Homo sapiens: one gene and its partner. The protein of the gene in region 1 binds, or shares a complex with, the protein of each later gene. Each region holds a gene or a part of one and is shown on either strand. Other genes may lie near its edges. A codon is read from its position in the direction of its gene.

What was found.
Region 2: the proteins of NAA30 (region 1) and NAA35 are in contact, whole or in part, in a cryo-EM structure (PDB 7MX2), measured with the Homo sapiens proteins. Residues at the interface, in NP_001011713.2 of Homo sapiens: Glu221, Pro238, Ser240, Tyr242, Thr243, Arg245, Tyr246, His249, Asn250, Lys304 (codon at 810), Ile324, Glu334, Asn335, Leu336, Gly337, Val339, Arg340, Asp341, Lys342, Arg343, Phe345, Arg346, Tyr347, Tyr348, Leu349, Leu359, Trp360, Leu361, Arg362; in NP_001308810.1 of Homo sapiens: Leu45, Gly46, Leu48, Leu56, Ala59, Met60, Ala62, Glu64, Lys69, Glu121, Phe313, Pro314, Arg315, Ala444, Leu510, Glu511, Leu512, Glu517, Pro605, Lys606, Phe607, Glu608, Leu609, Asp610, Val614, Arg615, His618, Arg619.

The regions. Positions count from the first base shown.
Region 1 is NC_000014.9:57,393,369-57,400,651, reverse strand, and holds part of NAA30 (N-alpha-acetyltransferase 30), read right to left. Parts: intron 3,901-7,283; coding exon 3,777-3,900; intron 825-3,776; coding exon 769-824; intron 1-768. UniProt on the Homo sapiens protein: Catalytic subunit of the N-terminal acetyltransferase C (NatC) complex. Catalyzes acetylation of the N-terminal methionine residues of peptides beginning with Met-Leu-Ala and Met-Leu-Gly.
Region 2 is NC_000009.12:86,006,962-86,014,244, forward strand, and holds part of NAA35 (N-alpha-acetyltransferase 35, NatC auxiliary subunit), read left to right. Parts: intron 1-396; coding exon 397-503; intron 504-2,903; coding exon 2,904-2,970; intron 2,971-6,084; coding exon 6,085-6,183; intron 6,184-6,757; coding exon 6,758-6,936; intron 6,937-7,283. UniProt on the Homo sapiens protein: Auxillary component of the N-terminal acetyltransferase C (NatC) complex which catalyzes acetylation of N-terminal methionine residues. N-terminal acetylation protects proteins from ubiquitination and degradation by the N-end rule pathway.

The DNA of each region.
Region 1 (7,283 bases):
TTTGAGAATTCTCTAAGGCACATCTGACCTCTAATAATAAAGACAATTGCTACTTCTATTACTCATAAAAGTACTAGTACAACTTTGCTCCTCCTTAGTCACCACTGCTATGTTAAAGACATCTATACTTCTCTAGTTTATACTTGTTCCCTTCCACACTGTGCAACAGTAAATGTTAACATTCCCAATCATCACCAATATTTATCATGCACCTACTATATGTAGAAACACCGTGCAGTAGGATACAAAGAAATATCTGCCATCAGACCTTACAAACAAGCTGAAGAGAGAAAATGCTCTTATGTTAATGCGCAGATAGCTCTACTCTTTAAAAGTGGTTGTCTTCCCCCTAGCCAACATTGTCATTATTTAATTCTGAAAAGATTATTTTCAAGTGTGAAATGTCCTCCATATAGACTGACAGTTTCCCATTGTCAGAAACTAAGGCCAATATGTAAGCAAATTATAACAGAGTCTGTAATAAGAGCTACCTTAAATAACTGATGATAAAGCCTCTGAATACCAAAATTGTGTACTGAAAATGTCTAAGATTCCCCCCACACATTTTGAAGAAATTTTAGCTCCATTTTAAAATTTGTTCTAGGTCAAAAATTCATGTGTTTTTAAATGGAATATAATTTTCCCCACAAGCTGCATTTGTATAGTAACACTGCAATGAAATCTGCAATAAATTATAAAATATTTATTAAAAATACCCAGAAAGAATAATGCCCAGATAAAAAATATTAAACATTTTTAAAGACTTACCTCATCACAGTCTCCCTCAACCATGGCATATATAGCTTTCTTAACCAAGTTAGTACCTAGAATATAGATCTGAGTATTAATGAAGGAAAAATGTATTTCTTAAAGATAACCTAAATTATAATATTCGTAAGCACAGAAATGTCAAATGCTAGTTTCTATCTTGAATCCAGATACACGGATTACCTCAAATTAAATGGGAAAAATTTTAGCTATAAGCTAAGAGAAGCCAACAGAACCTATACATAACAGTATGTTTCCTCTTGAAAGACCTATCTCCCAATATACTCCTTTTTCTCAGACATAATTATTTGCCACAAGCAGGAGTTTGTTCTATTGTGTTTGAAAGCAGTAGGAAAGCGAAAGAGAAAAAGACAAGATATGGTATGGCCAGAACAACGCAGGAACTCCCCGTGAGTTGGCCAGAACTTACTGCATAACCCAAGCTGATCTCACCAAAGATCCTTCAAACTCCCCTGGACACAAGGGACAAGACAACCTCATCAGAACTGCTGTTACCCACAGTAGGTTCCTATAAACTTTACAGTGAGCACGATGAAGTCTGGCAAGTCTGGCACTCCCAATGATGTCAGTGGTGTGTCTGTACATGTCTAGCAAAATGTATCCTAGTTTAGGGTCAAATATAATTGGTATATTAAAAGGGAAAAAATTTGCCAAATCTGATTTTAAGAGCAGACAGACAAATTTTATTTAAAAACTCTTAGGCTGGGCGCAGTGGTTCACGCCTGTAATCCCAGCACTTTGGGAAGCCAAGGCAGGTGGATCACTTGAGGCCAAGAGTTCAAGACCAGCCTGGCCAACATGGTGAAACCCCGTCTCTATTAAAAATACAAAAAATTGGCCAGGCGTGGTGGCTCACGCCTGTAATCCCAGCATTTTGGAGGCTGAGGTCATGGCAAAACCCCATCTCTACTAAAAATACAAAAAACTGGCTGGGTGCAGTGGCTCAGCCTATAATCCCAGCACTTTGGGAGGCCAAGGTGGGCGGATCACCGGAGGTCAGGAGTTCAAGACCAGCCTGGCCAACATGACGAAACCCCATCTCTACTAAAAAATAAAAAATTAGCCAGGCATTACAGGTGGAGGGTGCCTGTAATCCCAGCTACTTGGGAGGCGGAGGCAGGAAAATCACTTGAACACAGGAGGCGGAGGTTGCAGTGAGTCGAGATCATGCCACTGCGCTCCAACCTGGGCGACAGAGTGAGACTATCTCAAAAAAAAATAATAATAAAAAAAATAAATCAGCTGGGTGTGGTGGTGTGTGCCTGTAGTCCCAGGTGCTTGGGAGGCTGAGGCACAAGAATTGCTTGAATCTAGGTGCTAGAGGTTGCAGTGAGCCGGGATCACACCACTGCACTCCAGCCTGGGCAATACAGCGAAGCTCTGTCTCAAAAAATAATAAAATTAAATTAAAAACTCTTAATTTTCAAGCCATGCATACAAGTATGCACGCATTTTATGGCCCAAACAAAGTATGTCTGAAGGCCAGGATGCAACCCAAAAGCCACTGGTTTCTGCCCTCCAAACTAGCCAAACAATTGGCTATAATTTATCATGAGTCCTTATCAGTGCTTTTTAATGCATCAAAGGCTCAAACTTAGTCCATAAAACAAGCCCAATTCATTAAAAATCTTAGTGGAAAGCTGTAACACTGCAATAAAGTTGGCTAAACCTAACATATTAAGTAAACCTATTTATAGTTACTTCTCATGATACCTAGGACCGTGTGTGAGTCTTAGGTTGGACAATAACACTTAATAGTTTTTAAAAAACATGAAAGTGAAAAAACTAATGATTAAATACTGGTACAGGTATTAAACTTTTTTTTATGAATACTCAGCTAAAGCACATCACAAAATTTGACATGCTTAGACAAATGCTTGTCTACCCAATTCTCCACTGTGAACAAAGAGCCACTAGGTCCTAGAGAATAGAAGAGTGGTTTTTTGAAACGGAGTCTTGCTCTGTCACCCAGGCTAGAGTGCAGTGGCACGCTCACTGCAACCTCCACCTCCCAGGTTCAATCAATTCTCCTGCCTCAGCCTCCTGAGTAGCTGGGATGACAGGTGCCCACCACCACTCCCAGCTAATTTTTGTATTTTTAGTAGAGACAGGGTTTCGCCATCTTGCCCAGGCTGGTCTTGAACTCCTGACCTAGTGACTCACCTGCCTTGGCCTCCCAAAATGCTGGGATTATAGGCGTGAGCCACCGCACCCGGCACCTGGTGGCCTATTGAGTTTTATGGCGTTATTTAAATGACAAAAGTTATCTAACCCAGCCATAGAAGAGTGGTTCTTAATCAGGCTTACATCACAGTCACCTAGGGAAGCTTCAGCCCCACCTCTGACAAGACAAACAAGAGTCTCAGGGTGAGGGGCCCAAATACATGTTTTTAAACCACCCACATGATTCTAATGATCATTATAAATCATGAGTGTTAAGATTAACTAAACATGTCAGGAAAAGTAGACCCAACAAAAAATTAAGTTTGGGAATTACAAGAAACAATCAATTCTCATCTCCTGATCTTTCCTGAATTGCAATATATAGTTGATGACTAGCACCAAGTAATGGTAACAATTTGTCCATAATTTTGGCTTGATTGAGGTCCACTTAACCCAAATACAGACAAGTGCTTGAAGGCTGGCATGAAGGACCATCATAATGTAATTATAAATTGCAGTATTTCTTGTGGTACTTAGCATAATGCAAAGCATTTTGAATGTGATTAAAAAAATCTGCAGGTGAAAGCTGATGATCGGCTACTTGTTAAAACGAAAAACTGTCAAACAAAACATTAATAAAGAAAAAATTCATTTTAAGAACTTTTTAAAAATACCATTTTGAAATTAAAAATTAAAACCCGCCTTAATTTTCTTCCCTTAGTTTCTTTCATTTCTACATACTTACATTTAAGTCTTTTATTTCAAAACACAACAAAAATGAAAATAGCTTAGGCATTCTTTCCATAAAATAATATTTTTCTTACCAATGCCATTTCTCCTGTATTTGGAATCCACGGCTAACATGGCTATATAACCTCTGCGGAACATCTTTTTGTGCATATCCAACTTGCAAACGATGGCACCTACACACTCCTCCCCTACCATGGCCTTAAAAATAAACAAACAGTTATGAAGAATACATTGCCATCAGGTACTGCACAATTATCCAGAGAAAACAACAACCAACCATTGGTAAGCATTTTCGACGGGGGAAGATAATGGGAACTCTTGCAAGACAGCAGTCACAGAAGTTTCAGAAATCTAAATCCCCTAACTCCTTTAAATGTTCCAGTGTTAAAATTTCTCAATATTCTTTAGAACATGAATTTTTTATGCTTACTATTAAAGCCTAGGGAAAAAAGACAAGATTCCACAAGGTAAACATTCAAGTACTTTATAAGATTACATATGAGGTGCTTAAAATCACAATTATTTGCAACAAAGACCTAAGGTTCTGGAAGGGGAAATATGCAAAAAAAAAATGATTATAAAGAAAAAGTCTATTCATTAGGACATAAAATATTGTAAAACTTGCCCATCAGCAGAATGTAAATTTAAATATATTCAGTTAAATTTAGTAATAATGGCCAGGTGCTGTGGCTCATGCCTGTAAACCCAGCACTTTGGGAGGCAGGCGCAGGCAGATTGCTTGAGCTCAGGGGTTTGAGATCAGCGTGGGCAACATGGCAAAACCCTGTCTCCACCAAAATTACTTAAATTAGCCAGGTGTGGTGGCATGCACCTGTAGTTCCAGCTACTTGGAAAGCTGAGATAGGAGAATGGCTTGAGCCAGGAAGGGAGAGGCTACAGTGAGCTGAGATCGTGCCACTGCACTCCAGCCTAGGTGACAGAGTGAGACCCCATCTCAATAAAAGAAAAAAATGAAAATAAATTTAATAATAAAGTTTTAGTGAAAGCCAGATATAATACATATTTACACCTGAATGGTAGATTTCGATCAGGAAAAAAAAATTAAAAATTTTCAGAAAAAGCACAGTTTATAAGGTATTGCTTAGACCATACCCAAGAGGTTTTTGTTAATATATGTAAGTGTAGCATAGTCTCATTTTTAGGATACTCCTGATAGTGTGGATAACTGTCATAAAGCTCTCAGAATATTTATAGTTCAAAATCAAAGCTTTATGTTAAAAGCTTTAATTTTACAGAAATTTCTATTTTAATAAAAACGTACAGCTTTCCAGAGTATTAAAAGCTACATGTTAAATTCTAATCATCCCCCATTTTCATTAAGATTTCTAGTGTTACCATTGAAAATGTTTTTCAAAAATTCCAATGCTGATAAAAAGTTCTAGTAACACAGTATTTCTGGTAAATATAAATAGGGCAGTATCTCCAACTGTTTAAATAATGTGTCAGTAAGAAGTCTGTTTTCCATAAATTAACTTTCCAGAAGAAACTATTTCAACAAAAGCAGAAATGAGTCAAAAAACTAATAAGTAATGTCCAATTTATAATTAATACATATTTTAAATTTGTGACTTTTTTAGTCTGTCATTCTGTAAATTGATTAAAAGGCCTTTTTTTAACTGTGGAGAAATCTTTTCAGCAAGATAATTCTAATCCATTTCATGCAAACCTAAACTAGGTCGGAAAAATCCTTTTGAAGGAATATGAAATTCAACAACCCACGCTAATTCATTTCTGGTTTATCACACATTCCAAAACTATTTTGGGTCAATAAACCTCTGAAATTGTTATTTCTAATTTTTTCCCTCACAATACATCAATCTTTTAAAAAAATTTTTTAAACAAAGACCTGAAGTATGCACAAAAATCGCCTCGACCAACTCTGAAAGCTTTTTCTGATTTGAAACTCACTTCAAATATATGTGCGTATATACAGACACGTATAAATACATACACATACATAAAATTATCACAGACCAAATGGTATATTTAAAAGGGCCAGAAAAAATTTTGGCCTGACCTCATAAGCCAGGCTCAGGTGAAATGAAAACCTGTATTAGATTGATGATACAAACCTCAGAATAGCTACACCTTATATAAAACTATCCAAAAATGAGGAAAAATTAAAACCATTAAACACAATACAACTGGACAGTACTTTCAATCTGAACAGGAATTTCAAACAAATCTTTGTCCTTTGAGCATGGAATAAGCAAACAAAATATTAAATTAGTTCATTCTTAAGACCTGATTTCTTCCTAATTTAGAATCTATAGGAGCAAAAATCAAGCTGTATACATCATCTAAAAAGCCCAATATATCATACACCATTACGATGACATTAGTAGTGAAGACCAATGCTGCATTTTTTTTTCCTGATAAACTACTCATGAATATGTGGTACATTTACAGGAATCACTAAATTGCTTGTCAATTTTTCCAAATAAAAGCTCTGCATATACATTTGGAATTCACGCTATTAAATGTATTTTTTCAAGGATGGGAACTGAAAAATCCCCGGCAAGATTAAGACTTAACACTACAAGGCCAAAGGGTTGTCAGTCTATAAAACTATGAAAAAAATAAAGTGAGAGATTCCCAAATTCTAGAACACTACAAATAGAAAACTGGAGGAAGCCAAAAAGTTAAATTTAGAACAAATAAATGGAAGTACTATGTTACATTTGCTGAGAGTAAGTTTAAGAACTTCAAAAAGATACCAACAACTGAAAATGTTACTATGAAAACAGGTAAAGATAAAATGGTTAAGTACAGAGTAACTGAAAGTGTCTCACATTTGTCCTTTTTTTTTTTTTTTTTTACATCTTTTACAATTAGGAAGAATCATAATAAGCTATCATTTTTATTAATCAAGTATTGGCAATTTTGTAAGGTTCAACCCCATATACTCCATTGACCCATTACAGGTTATCCACGGAAAACGGAACATTTTGGAGGTTTTTAATCTCTTGAGATTGATGTAAGGGCAACTGTCCCTTGGTGAAGATAACTTGGTGACACAATAATCTTCACTGAATGGATCAAGGGTATGTCATTTTTCAGGTTCTTGTTTGTTACCATAATGAGAGGCCAGGAGAACTGGGTTCTAGCTTTACCCTTCCGACGGTAAATATCTGGAGATTGAAACATTTTAAGTCACTTTGGTTCTTAACTTCTTTTCAATCAAAAAACAAAACAAAACCTACCCCTCTGTCAGTAAATATCTGGAGATTGAAACATTTTAAGTCACTTTGGTTCTTAACTTTTTTTCAATCAAAAAACAAAACAGAACAAAACCTAAGTTGGGCTAGATTATCTCTAGGATGGCTTTCAGTTCTAAAAGGATATGATTTAAAATAAACAGACATTTACGCATCTGTATTTTTAAAAAAATAGTTCCTATGGGAAACTTAAATTTAAAAGTATGCCAAGATAAAGGCTTCAGTTTTAAATGGCCTGGTTGTTTTTTTACTGTTTTATTATTGTTTAATACCTCCTGATTCATACTTGCACCAGTAAATCTTATAGGTCAACCACTTGTGCATATCGCAATTCTAGATACT
Region 2 (7,283 bases), on another chromosome or scaffold:
AAAAATATTTGTATATGTTACAAAACATTCATTAGAGGTAAACAGGATTATCAAATAACATGTATAGCCATTTACTATTTCATAGTTTATGAAGCATTTTTTAATACATTAGCTCATTTGACATAATCAGATTAGTCAGTTTATTTTGACTATTTTAATATTACTACTCTTGGGAGGTTTTTATTTCTGTACATTTTTTATCCTACATCAGAATTCACCTTCAGTAAGGATTAATAAGTAACACTCATTGTGGAGACAGCAACTTATAAAAAATTTTCACAAACTTTTTATATTTTAATCACTTGCGTAGTCTGTGGCATTTATAAGTATACTGATTTTACACTAATGACAATTCTGTGCGTGACACCGTAACTAATATATAACATTTGTTTTAAGACCACTTTCCTGGTGGATAACAAAAAGGTCTTTGGAACTCATCTCATGCAAGACATGGTGAAAGATGCACTTCGGTCTTTTGTCAGTCCTCCGGTGCTTTCCCCCAAGTAAGTATTGTAAGACATTTTAGAGTTGTATGTATGTGCTCCTTTAAAAGCCCAACTTCTCTGTACTCCTTCTTTATAGCCAAAGTATCAAAATTGGGACCAAATCTCCATGTAAAGTAACTTAATAGTGTTAAAATTAATTGATCTCTGCCACATTGTTTAGATTAAAACTAAGGTTTTTATGAGGTTGACAAAATTTCTGATAACTCCAAGTTTTTTGTCTCCAGCGTAAGTCCTTAAACTTTGCCGTAGTAGAGGCACTGCCCCGAAAACATGCTGCCATCAGAGGCTGAAAGGATTGCATGCAGAAAGAATCATCATTTGAAAGCTGGCATTCTGAGAAATGTCAGGCTTTTCCAACAGGGAAGGGAAGAAAGGAGTCATCATTTCTTAACAAAGCACTTACACTTTGTTAAAAAAAAAGATACACCTAACAGTGTATCTTTTTCCACTGAAAGATACACGATGGCTTTCTATCACAAATTACTTCATGGTAGATCTAATTAATTATATGTAATGGCTGCCAAATATTTCATAATAAATGTTGAGTATCTTTTATCCAAAATGCCCTGGACCAGAGGTGTTTTAGATTTCTGATATTTTTGGATTTTTGAAGTATTTGCATGTACATAATGTTGCTCAGGCTGGAGTGCAGTGGCATCATCTCAGCTTACTGCAACCTCCGCCTCCTAGGTTCAAGAGATTCTCCCACATCAGCCTCCTGAGTAGCTGAGATCACGGGTGCATGTCACCATGCCCAGCTAATTTTTGTATTTTTAGTAGAGATGGGCTTTCGCTATGTTGGCCAGGCTGGTCTCAAACCCTGACCTCAAGTGATCTGCCCACCTTGGCCTCCCAAAGTGCTGGGATTATAGGCTTGAGCCACTGCACCGGCCTAATATGTTTCTTTTACATGGTGGTGTAATTTTTGTTAGCTCAAATCTTTTGAAAGCAGAATTCAGCCTGTTCACATTTGGTATACACTATTGGGTCATGAGTTTGATGTTAATAAATCAACAGTATATTAATCCATTAAATGAGGTGTCTTAAACAGAAATACACATAAAATAAGGTTATTCATTGATCAGTGCATGGAAATGTTGTGACCAGAGACTCATAGGAATCTAACCCTTTATTTCCCATGTTAGCAATGATTTAATAGTCTAATTTAGTATCTTCAGAAACTTTATGGAACATAAATACCACAAATAATGATAATTGTATATATGGAAAACTTTATTGTGTGGTAGTCTAGTTGTTCCACTGTTTTAAAACTTTCAGTGTTATAGATGAGAATCCTCTTTTCCTTTGTAAGTGATTTGAAACTTCTTCTGAAGCGTTGATGAGTTTCTCTTTATTTTAGGAGTTCAGAAGTTTTACCAGAATATTCATGTGTGATTTTCAGCTAGTGCTATCTGGAATTCAGTCATTAAAGACTCAGGTTTTTAGTCAGATCATTTGTCCCTGTTATTACTTATTTATTGCTTCACCTTCATCTGTTTTGATTTTTCCTTTTTTAGAGCTCCTAGCATACTAGGGTCTTCTAGAGCTCTCTTACCTATGCCTCATGACAGTCATCTCCTTGTTATTTTTGCTGTGTTGTGAGAAAGTTCTTCCTCTTGATCTTCAAGGCTACTAATGAACATATTTCTTCTACTGAATTTTTAAATTTGAAAATAATCATTTTTAGATTGAGAGAGCCTTTTAAAGCTTTTAAAGAGCCTTTTAAAAGCTTTATTTTAATCTCAAGTAATTTTCTTGCTTTAGGGTTAAAGATGTAATGAACCTTCAGCACTTCCCATTTCACCAACTGCCTGTTCCAGGTGTTGACCTTTTTTCTTTCTCCTGGGTGCTGGGTGCACTGTCTTTGCCATTGTGTGACCTTGACTCTGTTAATCAGAGATAAGGAACACCGTAAAGGAAACCACTTTGTGAGAAGAGATGACGTGCCAAAGGGAGGTATAGGTGATTTATAACCAATGGTGAGGAGTGGGGATACAGAAAAAATTAGGATCCTGTATAGTATTTTCTTTGTGATTATTATTAGGAGCACAGTCCATGAGGAAATCAATTGTAGGGAAATATGTGACACTGAAGTAGGGTCATGAAAAAGTAGAGCTTTAGACTTTTCCTTTTCTCTTTGCTAATTTGATCTTACTGGATCCAACTCTGATTGTTCAAATATAGACCTATAGGAATTGGAAATATCACAGATTTATTGTGTGAATTACATAATAATTGTAAAATATTTCTTAATCTAATACTGAAATTCTTTAACTTAGGTATCGGTTCCATTTTCTCTTTTATTCACCTTCTCTGTCATTTGGTAGCATCTGCAGTAATTGCTGCTGCTTTTGTTTGGGCTGAATAGATTTTAATGATGTGACTGTTATCTTGCAGGTGCTACCTATATAATAATCACCAGGCTAAGGACTGTATCGACTCCTTTGTTACTCACTGTGTTCGGGTAAGAGCTACAATTTGGATTGTCATAATGGGTACTTTAAAAATCATGGGCTGTGGCCGGGCACGGTGGCTCACTTTGGGAGGCTGAGGCAGGTGGATCACCTGAGGTCAGGAGTTTGAGACCAGCCTGGCCAACATAGTGAAACCCCATCTCTACTAAAAATACAAAAATCAGCGTATGGTGGCGCACGCCTGTAGTGCCAGCTACTCAGGAGCCTGAGGTGGGAAAATCGCTTGAACCCAGGAGGTTTCAGTGAACCAAGATCGTGCCACTGCACTGCAGCCTGGGGGACAGAGTGAGACTTTGTCTCAATAACCATAATAATAATAATAATAATAATAAATTGCTGGACTGCAATTCCTTCAGTGTCTGTGCTTTTTTTCATCTAATATTTCTTGTTTACTTTCAGTGAATAAATAAAAACTGTCTCCTCCTAACACTTGAGTGGATGGTTTTATATCCTAAGGTCTTCTGATAGGTTATTAGCTACAGAGGCAGCCTTGGATGACCTCCCACTGCAGCCTGTGGGGACCATAGATAGGGAATGTTATGACTCTCAACTGGGAAAACAGCAGTTGCTTCCTCAAAATTTTTTGTGAATGGACATAAAAACTTTACTTTTTTTTTTAACCTTAGAATTTTTTTTTTTTTTTTTTTTTTTAAGACGGTGTCTCGCTCTGTGGCCCAGGCGGGAGTGCAGTGGCGCAATCTTGGCTCACTGCAAGCTCCGCCTCCCGGGTTCACGCCATTCTCCTGCCTCAGCCTCCCAAGTAGCTGGGACTACAGGCGCCGCCATCATGCCTGGCTAATTTTTTTTTTTGTATTTTTAGTAGAGACGGGGTTTCACGTGTTAGCTAGGATGGTCTCGATCTCCTAACCTCGTGATCCACCCGCCTTGGCCTCCCAAAGTGCTGGGATTACAAGCGTGAGCCACCGCGCCTGGCCTAACCTTAGAATATTTTTAACATCCTTGTACACTTATCTTTGTATTATATTAATGAACTGAGTTATAATAAAATTAAAATTATTGGCTGGGCATGGTGGCTCACGCCTGTAATCCCAGCAGTTTGGGAGGCTGAGGCAGGTGGATCACCTGAGGTCGGGAGTTCGAGACCAGCCTGACCAACGTGGAAAAACCCTGTCTCTACTGAAAATACAAAATTAGCTGGGCATAGTGGTGCATGCCTGTAATCCCAGCTACTCAGGAGGCTGGGGCAGAATTGCTTGAACCCAGAAGGCAGAGGTTGCAGTGAGTAGAGATCACGCCATTGCACTCCAGCCTGGGCAACAAGAGCAAAACTGTCTCAAAAAAAAAATTAAAATTATTAATTTAAATGAGGTCACAAATTGTTTTCATCTCAAGTAATTAGGAAAAAATGCAAATCTTGTAGTGAGTTGAATTATTCATTTTTATTTAATTTTTTAAAATATTTATTTATTTATTTATTTTAAGACAGTGTCTCCCTCTGTTGCCCAGGCTGGAGTGCAGTGATCTTGGCTCACTGCAACCTCTACCCCCTGGGTTCAAGCAATCCTCCCACCTCAGCATTCGGAGGAGCAGAGACTACAGGCTCATGGCACCACACCTGGTTAATTTTTTTGTATTTTTTGTGGAGACAGGTTCACCCTGTTGGCCAGGCTGGTCTCAAACTCCTGAGCTCAAGTGATCCGCCCGTCTTGGCCTCCCAAAGTGCTGGGACTTACAGGCAGGAGCCACCGCACCCGGCTTCATTTTTATTTAATTAGATGTATTTCTTTTAGAGAACTCCAACAGGCAGCTTTTTTGGGTCTACTTCCAGTTACTAAATATATATATATTTCATATATATATCTACTTCCAGTTACTAAATATATATTATATATAATTACATTATATATGTACATCACAAACACTCAGGTTTAGTATATTAGACTTTGAGTTCAACTTTTAAACTTATTTAAATATATAAATATATATTATATGATATATATTAATATATATTATATATCATATAATATATACTATAATATATAATATAGTATATAATATATAATGTATATAATATATAATATATATTATATATAATAATATATAATGGAAAGGCAGCATGGTATGGGGAAAGAAAAAACAATAGAAGACCAGAATTTATTTCATTTTTATCATTAATATTTTATCAGGCATATCACTTTAATTTTTAAACTTTCCCTTTTTTTTTTGTTTTTTTTTGAGATGAAGTCTCACTCTGTTGCCCAGGCTGGAGTGCAGTGGTGCGATCTCAGCTTACTGCAACCTCCGCCTCCCAGGTTCAAGAAGTTCTCTGCCTCAGCCTCCCATGTAGCTGGGATTACAGGCGCCTGCCACCACGCCCAGCTAATTTTTGTATTTTTATTAGTGACGGGGTTTCACCACCAACAGTCACAACTGTTGACCTCATGATCCACCTGCCTTGGCCTCCCAAAGTGCTGGGATTACAGGGGTGAGCCACTGTGCCCGACCCAACTTTCCACTCTCTAAAGAGTAAAATGCTTATATCTTCTCTGACCTCTTACAGGGTAGTTACTGATCAAATGAGATAATATCTGTCACAGTATGCAAATATAAAACAGTATTATACTTTGAGAATCTTCTAACTCAGACTTACAAATCCATGTCTCTTGCCTGGTTAGTGGAATGTTACATAGTATTTTAGATGAGAACACCTTATGGAGAAAGCAGGAATAAAGAACCATAGTCAAGCTTTATGGCTATTAGCTCTTTTTAAGCTAATAATTATTAGGCATTCTGACATATTTATAGCAGCACAGGAATGTCAGCCTTGAACATTGGCTTTTGACTCAAGCAGGAAAGAAATTGTCCTTGTGAAATTGCAAGAAGATATCTAAAGATCGAAGGAAGCTATTTTTATCATATGAAAGCAAGTTTCACATGAAGCTGTTTTTTTCCAGTTATTGATAAATTCTGGTGTTGAGTTCCTTAAAACAAACACCTATGTAAAATTAAAAGTATACATAGACCTAATTCTTACATACACAGCATTTTTTTCCCTTAAACCAGATTGTGAACTTGGAATGTTAAGTTTCTTTGGTACTAGGAAATTTCATATTTACAGTTGACAAATTATATGTGTATTGCAGCCATTCTGTAGTCTTATTCAGATCCATGGACATAACAGGGCTCGACAGAGAGATAAGCTTGGTCATATTCTTGAGGAATTTGCCACCTTGCAGGATGAGGTAAGAGCCAGGTTCCCCTCTCTTCTAAAATTAAATGATGCACACACTTTGTCCAGATTTTTAAAAACAATAATTCAGAACAATATTTTGACTAATTTTTCAACATGATCCACTTTTCACTTAAAATATAACAGTTTCTTACACCAACGTTTACAAAATGAAACAGAACAATAATCCAAACTGATAGATATCTTAAATATTTCTTTGATAATAGGAATAAATTATGAAATATGTATAAAATGATAGTTTTACAAGCTTACATTATAAAAAATATTAATACATTAATTTTAAAGTTAATTTGTGTGCAGCAGCAATATTGATAAGACCTGAAGTGTATTTGTATTTTTGTCCTTTAAAATTGATTTGGTTTAAGGCATGTTTAGGTAAATGTTAACCATTGTGAAATGAGAACTTCAAATGTAAACCTAACTAAAAATGCATTTAAAAATGTTTCTTTGGGTGGTCAGATTTAAATTTTCTGCTCATATTCTTTTTAGCTGTACGTTTTTTTAAAGTTCTGTCATTACCTTAAGAAAACAAAACGAACACAGTTTATGACATTTTATTTTAATAGGCAGAGAAGGTTGATGCAGCGCTTCACACCATGCTGTTGAAACAGGAACCCCAAAGGCAACATTTGGCCTGTTTAGGTACCTGGGTCCTTTACCATAACCTTCGCATTATGATACAGTACCTTCTAAGTGGCTTTGAATTGGAACTCTACAGTATGCACGAGTACTATTACATATATTGGTAAGAGCACAGTTTGAGTTAAAATTGGTGGTGGGTGCAATGGATAAGATCTGAGAATTCAGAGTTAATTTCAGGGTACTTTTTCATTTAGTATATTTTATCTTTAGTTGTGGGACAGTTGGAAAAATTTGAAAATTAGAGCTAGATCATCTTGAATATCTTTAAGTGCTATAATATTGCATGAGTGTATTTTTCCAAATGTTTATGTAAAAATTAACAAAAAATGACTCCAAAGTAAATGGATTAATTGAAGATCATTTATTTGCTCCTATGGAGAAAAATTAACACATTTTGCCCTGAATTTGGTGGCACTAGCTGTGGATGTACTTGACAGTTAAACATCAAAT